Regions from separate parts of the Homo sapiens genome. Here region 2 is linked to region 1. The links come from fine-mapping of genetic effects on gene expression. A gene starts in region 1. The other region holds a variant in brackets. All regions are shown on one strand. Distances are between the middles of the regions. Region 1 holds the start of HDAC7 (histone deacetylase 7). Region 2 overlaps HDAC7 (histone deacetylase 7).

Region 1 (5,361 bases):
TGGGCCTTGCATTAGCTCACCTTCTCTCAGGCCCCTGCCGACTTCAAAATTACCAGCCCTTAATGAAAGGCCAGGAGAAAGAAGGCAAAGAGGAGATGGGGTTCCACAGGCTTCTGTCTTCCAAGTCCTTGGGCATGCTTGCCCACAGCTACCAGAGGGTCCCCACTCCCTACCCCATCACACATGAGTTTCTCTCTTGCTCAAGGGTTTTATATCAGAATTGAGAAAGTTCCAGCTTCCATGCCAAGAGGCCACCAAGGACTAAAGCTGAGGTCCATTATCCCTAAGCAAACTGGAGGGGGTGGATAATAGCACAGTACCTTCATTCTCCTCTCCATAGTCAACCTCTTCTGCTCTGCTCTGAGAAGTGTGCTTGGAATTTTCTCCCCATTTTACTGATGGGGAAACTGAACTTCAGTGTCAAAGTGGAGTGAACAGCTTAGACATGCAAACTTCCCTGCCCCAAAACCCACTGTAAGACCCGGTGGCCACAGAGACACCCGCCGAATAAGGGACACAGAGGCCTCTGGAGAACACTGCACCAGGACCATTCCAGGTGCAACATCAGGAGGCAGCTCTGAGCTTGCCTCTGAGCCTGGCCCTGCTGGGCAAGGAGGGACATCAGGGGACTAAAGGCAGAGGACCAGTCCCAATAGGTCCAAGACCTGGTTCCAGTCTAGGTTCACTGGGCTGGGTACCACTCACTGGGACTACTCTGTGCCTTAGTTTCCCTCAGAAATGACTGCAGAGAAGAAGAAAATGACTTAATAACCCATGGGTAGCGGCAGCCTAGCAGCCTATGGAGTCCTGGGAGGGGGAAAGGGCCGCCAAAGCGTCTCATTGGAGGGCAGGGACCTGAGTCACAGTCTCCTGCCAGCCCTATAGCTGAATAGGGGTCCTGAGGAAGGTCCCACAGGTCCAGATGCAAGTCCAGGGAACAGGCTGAGAAGTTGATCTTGAGCTCCCAGCAGGGCCGCTGAGGGCCGATGCCCCATTCTCACCCTAGAAAGCGGCAGGCAGAGCTGGGCCTCAGGCAGATGTTGCCTAGGGGAGTGGGCAGGGAGCGTTGGCAGCGAGACAGCCAGTGTCCAGATGCAGGGGGAGGCCTTTGGGTGCGCAAGACAGCCAGCGGGGAGAAGGAGTGAGGAGCAGCCGTGGCTGGGGAGGTCAGACCCAAACGGGCAGCCACAGCGGGAAGCAATGGGGGTGGGGCACTGGGTGGCCTGCGGGCCCCAGAGGGCTCTCTCCTGGCCCACAGGCCTAGAAACTCTGGTCGTGGGAACCCAGCCCATCCGCCAAATTTGCCGCCTGCTCTCACACTCCCCAACACCAACAGACCCCAGGCCTGGGGGGTGCACATCCTGTCCCCCACCCCTCACACAGCCTGCGGCGCCCCGCTTCCCGCGCCGCTGCCGGCATTGACCTCCACAGCTCACCAGGGCACAGGTGTCTCTTCACCCTGATGGGTGAGCAAGGATGGGGGGCAATGCTCAGAGAAACCTCCCAGCCAGAGACCCCTCCAAGGGACCTCTTTCCCCGCCGAAGGATCTGAGTAGGGCCCTGCCCGGCTCCACGGGATGGGGGCGCTGATGTCCAGCCCCACAAAGCCCAGCCCCAACTCAGTGGGTCCTGCCCTTTGCCCTCGCGCTTCCAAACCTTCCGCCCCGGAGCACCGCCCCCTCGCCGGGCCACCGCGGCCGTCCCTCCCTCCCCGGTCCCTCGGCTCGTCCTCCCCGGGAACAGGGGTGATGGGACGTGGGGCCCGCACACCGGCGGCCGGGGCCTCCAACTCCCTCCCTTGGGCCTGTAGCTGCCCCGGGGCGGGCGGATGTGGGCGCCCCGCGGGAGGCCCGAGCCCTCCGGCCCCCGGAACCAGCTCCGACCCGGAGCCTGCCAGAGCCCCGCGGAGCCGGGCGGGACAGGCGCGGTCGGGGGGCGCAAGCCGGGCTGGGCCCGCGGGGCTGGCGGGAGCCCGAGCCGGAGCCGGAGCCGGAGCCGGGGCCAGGGCCGGAGGCCGAGCCTGGGCGGGCGACGCTGGGTGCCGCGCGCAGGGCGGGGCGGGGGGCGGCCGCCCAGTACTCACCAGCGCCGGGGCTGTGCATCCAGGGGCCGGGGCCCTCAGAGCGGGGGGCTCATGGCGGGGCGGGGGGCTGGGGCGCCGGCCTCACATCCCCCCAGTCGCCGGAGGCTGCAGAGCGACTGTGAGACGGCGAGAGGAAGGGAGGGGGCCGGGAGGGGGAGGGCCCTGGCAGCCCGGCCGGCCGGGTAGGATGACAATGGAAGGAAATGCTTTATCTGAGTCTGAGAGCGGGCCAAGGGGGAGGGGAGGGAGGGGGCAGGCGCTCGCGGCCCTGGGACACACCACCCCGGCAGACACTGCACCGCGCGGCGCACAGGCGGGCCGCAGACACCGCGCGCGGCCAGATCGCGGCGGGGCGCGGCGCACTGCCGGGGAGGCAGCGCCGAACCCGGAACGCCGGCCGCGGCTCCGAGCCCCAGCCGCCGCGAGGCGCTCCGAGCCGTGCACAATTCCCGGAAACCCAGCTACCTGGGCGCACGCACCCTCGCATACACAACGTACACGAGCACGCATCCATGTTTACAAGGGGCAGAATCATTTACACAGCACACACTGGGGCTTCGGGGTGGACCCCCGTGCACACACTACATACCCGTACAGCCCACAAGCACGCAGCCACACGCGGGCACAGTGGGACACGCGTGGTGTCCCATGTCCCATACAAGGAATCCCAGACGGACACCCCCCACCACACACACACACACATAAGCACGACTTGCCTCAGGAAAGTTCCAGGATCTGATTTGAATCACTGCCCAGCCCTCCCCCACTGGCACCCCCACACACACACCATGCCTGCTGAGGGGAACGGAAGGGTCCAGCCTGTTCCTATTAAAAGAAAAAGGGTGTGGGGGTGGTGCAGATTTTGAAAGTTTTCTTTTTTTAAAGAAATTTCTCAAGGGACTTCCTTCCCTCCTCTCCTCTTCCTCTCTTCCTCCCATTCCTCTCCCTCCACAACCCCCCTCTTTCCCCCTCCCGGTCCCTATGAGTCAAACTTCAGCAATGTGCCCAGTGTCCCCCAGTGCATTACAGCGGATCACAGAAATGTTCCAGTCTGTGAGTCGGAATGCAGCCGCCTCCAGCCCTCCCTCAGCTAATAAACTCAGCTCAGGGCCGGCTTTAGGCAGTGGCCCTCCCTGCCTCTCCCTCCGCTTTTAGCTGGAGAGAAGGTCAGATTCAGGGGTCAGGGGCTAAGGACCTCGCCATTGTGCTTCCTGGGCTAGCCGGTCAGCCGTGTCTGCCTCCAGCAATCTGGAGCTGCTCCTAGGAAGGGGAGAGGTCCACCACGCAGGAACACTGGGCTCTCTGCAGCGTGAGGCGCCACCATTGTAAACCAAGGAGCAGCTTCCCCTGACCCCATTCTATCTCCCGCAATCCTAAGAAACCCCAAGAATCCAGAGAAGGAAAAATTGAGGCAGCCCCAGAGGTGGAGTCATGTCTGATTGGAAGCAAGAGCCCACAGTGGCCTAGGAGGGCTTGGCCATGCTGGCGGTGAACTTCAAACCATAGATTCTATTCCCTTCCCTCAGGCACAGCTCGGGACTCACTATCTGTTGCTACCGGCATATTCAGCGTGGGACTTCTTACTTCAGCCCCTTTCCTTGTCCCAGTTCTCCTTCGGCAGGCAGATCCAACCCCTCTGCGCTTGTTAACTTACCCTCCCAAAAGCCTTTCCTGGCATTCAAGTCCTCCTACAACCTGGCACCACACTCCATACACATCCCTGCCCAGTGCCTCCTGGTACTTAGGGCTCAGTAGTGTTAGTCACTATTATTACTATCATTATTTCTGCCAGACTGGGCTGCTAGCTGCTTCCCATCCTGTCCTCACGCTTCCACACTCCCTTGCCTTCGCTCATCATGCTGCCTCCAAAAGAAATGTCCTCCCAGCCCCTTTCTCCTTCTGTTGAAATCTTTCCAATCCTCAAGACCCACTCCCTATCTAGTGGGAGGGAGGGAGGGAGGGAAGGAAGGAAGGAAGGAAGGAAGGACTGGAAGAAAAAGAAAGTGGCATACCACTTTCTCCGGGAGGCTTTCCCGGATTCCCATAGCCAAGAGGAATTCTTCCCTGAACTGTGTGGTCTTTATACATTGACCTTCGCCCACCTAGTCTACTTGTCTCAACTCTCTTCCTTCCAAGAGCATTCAAGAGTGGATATCCCTGAGTCCAGCTACTGCCTTGGTCATGGGTGCATTTCTTGTAGTGTCTTGCACAGAATTCAAACTTGATGTGAGTTATTTGTTGAATTGGGACAGATGTTCATGACTTTCAAGAACCCTTCTCCAGCTGGACACCTACAGTACATTCTTTCACCCCATAACTACCCATGCTGACTCTCCAAGACACATGCTGTTCCACCTTAGGTATGTCATCCCCAGCCCTCAATTCCAAGCCAGATCATCCTCCTTCCAAATGCCTCTTTGGTGTCCACAGACTCCAGAAAAACTGCTTGGTTACTGCAGACCCCCAGCGACATGCCTGCTATCTCCCTTGTCTAGCTCCACAATTGATCCCAACCCCCAACACACACATATCCGTAGCTTTTCTGTAGCTATTTCTGTAGTAAAGCCAGGCCCTTTTATGCTCATTTCTACCATGTGCATTGTGCATACATTTATTTGTGAGTCTTCTTTCTCTTTTTAAACTCATCACTGAGTTTTGAGTGATCTGAATTAAGAGGCTATCTCCCTGCCTGTCTGTCCACACAGTGCCCAACATGTGGCTTTCTACACACCAGGACTCACTGCCTCCAACATATAGTCAGAGAAAAAGACAGCATGTGCAACCTGCATCTGGGAAAGCTGGACTGTGTCTCTCCTTCCCCTGCCAGATTTACTTACCAGACCCCGCCTCATGGCAGAGTCCTAAGCCAGTTTCTAAGTCACATGTCCCCTACCAGGATAAATTAGAAAGCCTCCAAGAACCTTAGAGACATGAGACAGAGAAATGCAAGCTACCTCTCTCTCTTCTAGCCTGGTTACCGTGGGGAGCCTTTTTTTAAAAAGCTCTTGAGTCCAGGCCTCTCATAGCTTTCTCAGCTGAACACCTAGCAGAAGAGACTGGCCCCAAAAGACGTGCCTTGGCTTCCTGAGCCTTCCCTAGAGTCTCCGGCCAGCACAAAGCCTGAGGGCACCCCAATCTGCTTCCCTTTGGGACTCTGGGCCTACTTGACCTTCTCTTCTCCTTTTCCTCTCCTTCTTTCCTTAGTTAGCTACTGTTTACCATTTACTGCGTAGCAGTCCTTGCTATCCCCTGGACAAACATTAGATCATTTATTCTTA
Region 2 (5,361 bases), 25 kb before region 1:
TTGACCACAGGCTTGTCACCTTAGATTTCGTGAGCCTTGGTCCTCATCGGCCAAATGCAATAACCAGCTGTTCCATGTGCTCCATGGGTACTACGTGGGCCTAACAAGGCTAAGCACTCTGTGGCCTCTAAAAATGTCCCAAGTGACACCAAGACACCCACATGGACTCGTGCAGCCGAGCCCCTCCCTCCACCCGCCACCCTCCTCCCGGTCTCACCTGTGGTGAAGGGCAGGGTCCTGGCAGGGGTCTCTGAGCTGGAGAGGACTCGGGCCTGGCTGGCAGGCTCTGGGGCTGACAGTGAGGCAGGTGCGGCTGGGGAAGACTGAGCCCGGGACAGAGGCCGGTGCCCACCCTGGGCCAGAGGAAGCAGCACAGTGTCCCCGGTGCTGCCCCGGGGGAGCCGCCCAGCCAGTCGCTGCTGTTCCCAGAGCAACACCTAGGGGAAAGATGGGGCCTTGGTCTCCAGTGTTTCAGGGTCCTGCTCCCTCTACTTCTGCCTGAGGTCTTGGGAACTGCCAAGCAGGCCCCTTTCCTAGAGAGATTCCAGGATAAACCTAGACCTGCTGTCCAGTGGGGCTCTGGCCTTTGACTCTCTAAGCCCCCTGTCCCCTGCAGCCCCCTGACAGGTTTGCACCCCAGACTGACCACCCATTCCACCAGCTCCCCGGGCCCTTGGGGCTCCAAAGCCAGGAACCAGGGGAGGGGCGCTGGATCTTGTGCTGACCAGGATGTCCTCCTGTCCTGGACTATGTAACTGTTCAAGAACATGTGTGTGGCCTGTCATCATGTGTTATGGAGTAAATTATGTTCCCCACCCTCAAATTTATATGTTGAAGTCCCAACCCCCAGTACCTCTAAACATGACCTTATTCAGAGATAGGGTCTTTACAAACAGAAGTAATCAAATTAAAATGAGGTCGTTAGGGTGGGCCTTAACCCAGTATGACTATTGTCCTTATAGGAAGAGGAAATCTGAACAGGCATTCACAGAGGGAAACCACATGAAGCCACAGGAAGAAGATGACCATCCACAAGCCAAGGAGAGAGACCGGGAACAGCCCCTGCCCTCACACTCACAGCCCCCAGAAGGAACCAACTCCACCAACACCTCGATTTTGACTTCCAGCCTCCAGAACTGTGAGATGGTAAATGCCTGCTGTTTAAGGCGCCCAGCCTGTATCCCAACAGCTCCGGCAAGCTAATGCACTGGGTCTTGATTCCCACAGTGAGAGCATTCTGCTGGACACGCTGGAGCCTGGCTCCATCCCACCTCTGGCCCTAGCCACCTTTCTGGATAGAGGGGAGACATACCAGGGCAGGACTATGTGTGGCTCCAGGAAAGGACAGACTCCTTCCTGGAAAAGGGACATGCTTCACCTGAGACTGGCAAGCTGTTGTGTGTATGTGTGTGTATGGGTGTGTGAGTGTGCATGTGTGTGTGTGCCTACACCTTAGTGTGGATCCAGCACCCAGGATCTTATAGGGCAACCATGGGTCCTAGAGCTGCCTGTTGCACTGATGTCGTATCTCCCTCCCTTCCCCATCTTATGCCAGGCCCCAGAGTCTTCTGAGGACACTTTCTGAGGGGCAGGTGGGGACTGCCATACCTGAGGGTGCTGCTGGAGAGGAGCGGGGCCTCTGGCCTCAGGCTGCCCATGGCCCAGCTCCCTGTGCTCCAGGCCATCGTCCACCACCTGGCCCGGTCCCCCGCCATCTGTCTCCAGGTCTTCAGCCGAGGGTATCTGCCGCAGCCGGGGCTTCTCACTCGGCTTGGCTGACCTCTGGGGAGGGGAGAACCTGGCTGAGAAGCCATGGTGGAGCGAGGGGCATGGGGTGGGAGGTGGTGGGCTGGGCCAGGCAGCCAGTCATCTTGCTAGGACTCCAGCTGCCATGCAGCTCTGGGCCCCAAGAAGCCACATCCCCCTCTTTTGCCCTCCAGTTCCCTGCCCTTTCTAAGTACCCCTCTTCTTTTGGCCCCTAAGTCCCCAGTTAAACACTCCCTCAATACCTCCACTGCCCAATTCCTCTCACCTTGATCACCTGGACGTGAGTTTTGAGCTGCTCCAGGCGGGGCTGCATGGGGCCCGGCGGTGGGGGAGCGGTGGCACTGGGGGGCAGGGGCTCTGAGCGAGTCCGGCTCAGTGGCCAGTGGAGGCCTGACCCAGAGAGCCGCTCGGTGGTCATTAAGGACTGGGCAAAGTGGAAGGGCAAGGGCCCAAGCCCGGGCACTGGAAAGAATCGGGGGGTGGAATAAGGAGGGAACCACAGGGAGCAATGGAAGGAAGCGAGGGTATAGGGTGGGGGGCCAGGGTGCAGCAGGGCAATGCGCAGGACAGGGGGACAGAGATGGGGAGGAAGGATGGGTCCATCCCAAGCTTGGCTCTTAGCAGGGTGCAGGGACCCAGCCCCTTCCCTGAAGAAGCAGCAGACTCACCAGTCAGCAGCGGGGCATGAGAGCCTGAGGGGTCCAGGAGGAGAATGGGCTGCAGGCGAGAGGGCAAGGTGCCCCCAGCCTCGGGCTCCAAGCCATGGGGCAGGAAGAGGGGAGTGTGGGGGCTCCCCAGGATTGGCCCCCGAGGGCCCAGAGTCGGATGGGTCCTGCGGTCACTGTCAGCCTGGGGGAGAGGCGGGAGAAGTCACGGGGAAGAAGATTCCAGCAGAGAACAATGAAGATGATGGGGTGAGGCAGCAAGAAAAGGGAGTGAAAGAAGCTGGGGGGGCTTGGAGTGGGGGTGGGCACCCCAGCCACTCACCCTGGCAGGGGCGGGCAGCCCCAGAGTGATTGCGGGCAGCAAGGACACTGTCGGCAAGGCGAACGGGGCCACAGAAGTCTCCTGCAGCCGCAGCCGCTGGCCCAAGAGCGCCTGCCATAGGGAGCAGGGCGAGGGTCACCGGTCCCAGACCTCTACCCCGGCGCACCTTCCCCAGAACACCCAGGAGGCTCTGGCAGGGGCTGCCCAGACCCTGCAGCCCCAGCCCAGGTAGGGCCGCCTGCTGGAAGAAGGCTGAGCCTCAGAACTGCCCCAGGAGAGCCCAGTCTCGGCAAGGCCTTACCTCCGAGCCCAGGATGGGATTGGGGCCGTGCTCGCTGTCATTGGGGGAGCTGCA[C/T]CCTGATGCGGGCGTGCTGCTACTACTTGGGGAGGAGTCTGAGGGTTGGGGAGAGAGGGAAGTGCAGTCAGAGGCCAGGGTGGGCAGGAGGGTACAGCCAGGCCGCCTGGTGCAGGAGACCCGGGAGCACCCCCTTCCTTAACGAGCACCTTTGCTTCCTGCTTTCTTTTTTTTTTTTTTTGAGACAGAGTCTTGCTCTGTTGCCCAGGCTGGAGTGCAATGGCACGATCCCGGCTCACTGCAACCTCCACCTCCTGGGTTCAAGCGATTCTCCTGGCTCAGCCTCCCAAGTAGCTGGGACTACAGGCATGCACCACCGTGCCTGGCTAATTTTTGTATTTTTAGTAGAGACAGGGTTTCACCATATTGTCCAGGCTGGTCTCAAACTCCTAACCTCAGGTGATTGACCTGCCTCAGCCTCCCAAAGTGCTGAGATTATAGGCGTGAACCACCGCGCCCGGCCTCCTGCTTTCTTCCCATCAGAGCAGGAAGAAGACAGGCCACCTTTGGCCTACAGCACCTTTGCATAATTTTTTGAAGGGTGCCCCCTTTTCTGGGAGATGTCACCTTAGCTAACAGAGCAGGGACTGGGTTTCAGCCCCAACTCCCCCGCTTCGGCAAGTGTGTGGGACACCCCCATGCAACCACGCATGGCAGTCCTAAGGAGGGGACCCCTGTCTAGGTGGGGCCTGACCCAAAGGGACAAGACCAGCCAGGTTTGAGGATGGCAACCGCACTGGCTCAGCCGGCCCTCACCTCCGAGGGTCTCTGCGGGCCGCCGCCGGAGGCTGGGGGGCGCACTCTCCTTTCGGAGCAGTGGATTCTTCCTCCGCTCCAGGGACTTCTTGGGCTTATAGCGCAGCTTCAGGTTGGGCTCAGAGACTGCAGGGAGCACCAGCGTCACTCAGGCCCCCACCACCCTTCTTTTTTCCACCCTTTAACCCCTCAGTCCCAGTCATCTCTATCGGTCAAGGAAAGAGAAGGCAGAACTAGAAAGAAGATCCTAGCCTACCGATGATCTCCTGGCCCAGCCCAGCCCGCCCACCCCTGCACACTCCTCCCCCATGTCCGAGGCCCTTCCCCCTTCCTTTGCCTGAAAGGTCCGCCTGTTTGTTCAGCTCACCTGTCTTGCGCAGAGGGAAGTGCTCTGGGGGGTCACTGGGCAGGCTGGGAACAGGAGGCAAAAAGCTGCTGAGCATGGAGCGGGTGGCTCCTTCCGTCTCCAGGGGCTCCAGGGTTCTACAGAACGAGTGCCAAGGCTGCTTCAGAGGTGTGGGGACACTGCACGGGCACTGCCCTGAGCACGGGCCCTGGGACCTGAGGGGGAGGCTGCAGCGGGCAGGGCTGGGCAATGTGGGGCTGGTAGGAATGGGGACCATCTCCAGGTGGCAGCAGTGGGCCGCCTGTCCGCTCCAGCAGCTATAGTGCAGAGCTCTGACCTAGGCATAGAAGCCAGGTGCTTGGTGCGTGGGTGAAGAGCCCACTGGGGGCTCTGTCACCTGCACTAGGAACCTGCTCTGGGAACCAGGACATTTTTGCGCTCAGGGAAAATATAAAGAGAGAAGGGGCTCATGTGCAAGAAAAAAGCCAGTAGGGTGTGTGTGTGTGTGTGTGTGTGTGTGTGTGTGTGTGTGTGAGAAGGGCTCAGGTGGGGTGGGGAGAATTTAAAGAGAGGAGGGCAGGTATCAGTTGAGAGAGGGGCTCGGGGGCATTATGTTTAGAGGAAGGGTAAGGACTGGTTGTGGCAACTGGGGAGGAAGGAGGCAAGTGTGTGTGCTCATGGCTAACACGGGGGCGGGGGTGGAGGGTGCATGTGGGGACAGGAGGGCAGGTGAGGAGGGTGTTACCTGTAGGGAATGCCGGGGCTGTTGGGATGGACTGTTCTTTCTAGGGCCGCCTGCTGTTTTTTCAGAATCACCTCCGCTAGCTTCTGCTTGACCACGCTGCTGGCTACAGCACCTGTAGGGGCAGAGTCAGGAGGGGGCTGGAGGTGGGTGGACAGGCGGCCTCGTGGCACTACCTGGCCACTGCCCTGTCCCCATCCTCAGTAGGAGGCGTCCCAGGGACTCCCTAGGCAAGAGCCAAGCCCGAGGCCCTACCCCTCCCTAGAGCCTCCAGACACCACCCCCCACCCCCACATCCCCCACACATTCACAGGCAGAGCCCAGGCAAGCAGAGGGAAAGCCTCGGCTCAGGCCCAGCTGGCTGCGGCCCTCCCACCTCACCCCTCACAAGCCACACAGGCAGCCGCA

Evidence for each region. PIP is the estimated chance that this variant, and not a neighbour inherited with it, causes the effect.
Region 2: its variant is the best candidate, but not a certain one, in a credible set for the expression of HDAC7 in monocytes after Pam3CSK4 (Quach 2016, PIP 0.60).

The regions. Positions count from the first base shown.
Region 1 is chr12:47,817,684-47,823,044 of GRCh38, forward strand. It overlaps HDAC7 (histone deacetylase 7), which reads right to left and starts at 2,220. Exons shown (of 26, transcript NM_015401.5): 1 at 2,084-2,220. The coding sequence starts at 2,102. RefSeq lists enhancers at 1-431, 1,149-1,722, 3,061-3,982 and silencers at 1,631-1,940, 1,951-2,030, 2,171-2,510.
Region 2 is chr12:47,793,152-47,798,512 of GRCh38, forward strand. It overlaps HDAC7 (histone deacetylase 7), which reads right to left. Exons shown (of 26, transcript NM_015401.5): 5 at 4,957-5,068; 6 at 4,233-4,348; 7 at 3,866-3,991; 8 at 3,056-3,147; 9 at 2,755-2,865; 10 at 2,436-2,616; 11 at 2,033-2,229; 12 at 1,609-1,782; 13 at 218-437. Among named protein-coding and RNA genes, the nearest start is that of SLC48A1, 23 kb to the left of the region's middle. RefSeq lists a silencer at 4,375-4,574. The variant C/T (reference allele first, on the strand shown) is at 3,110.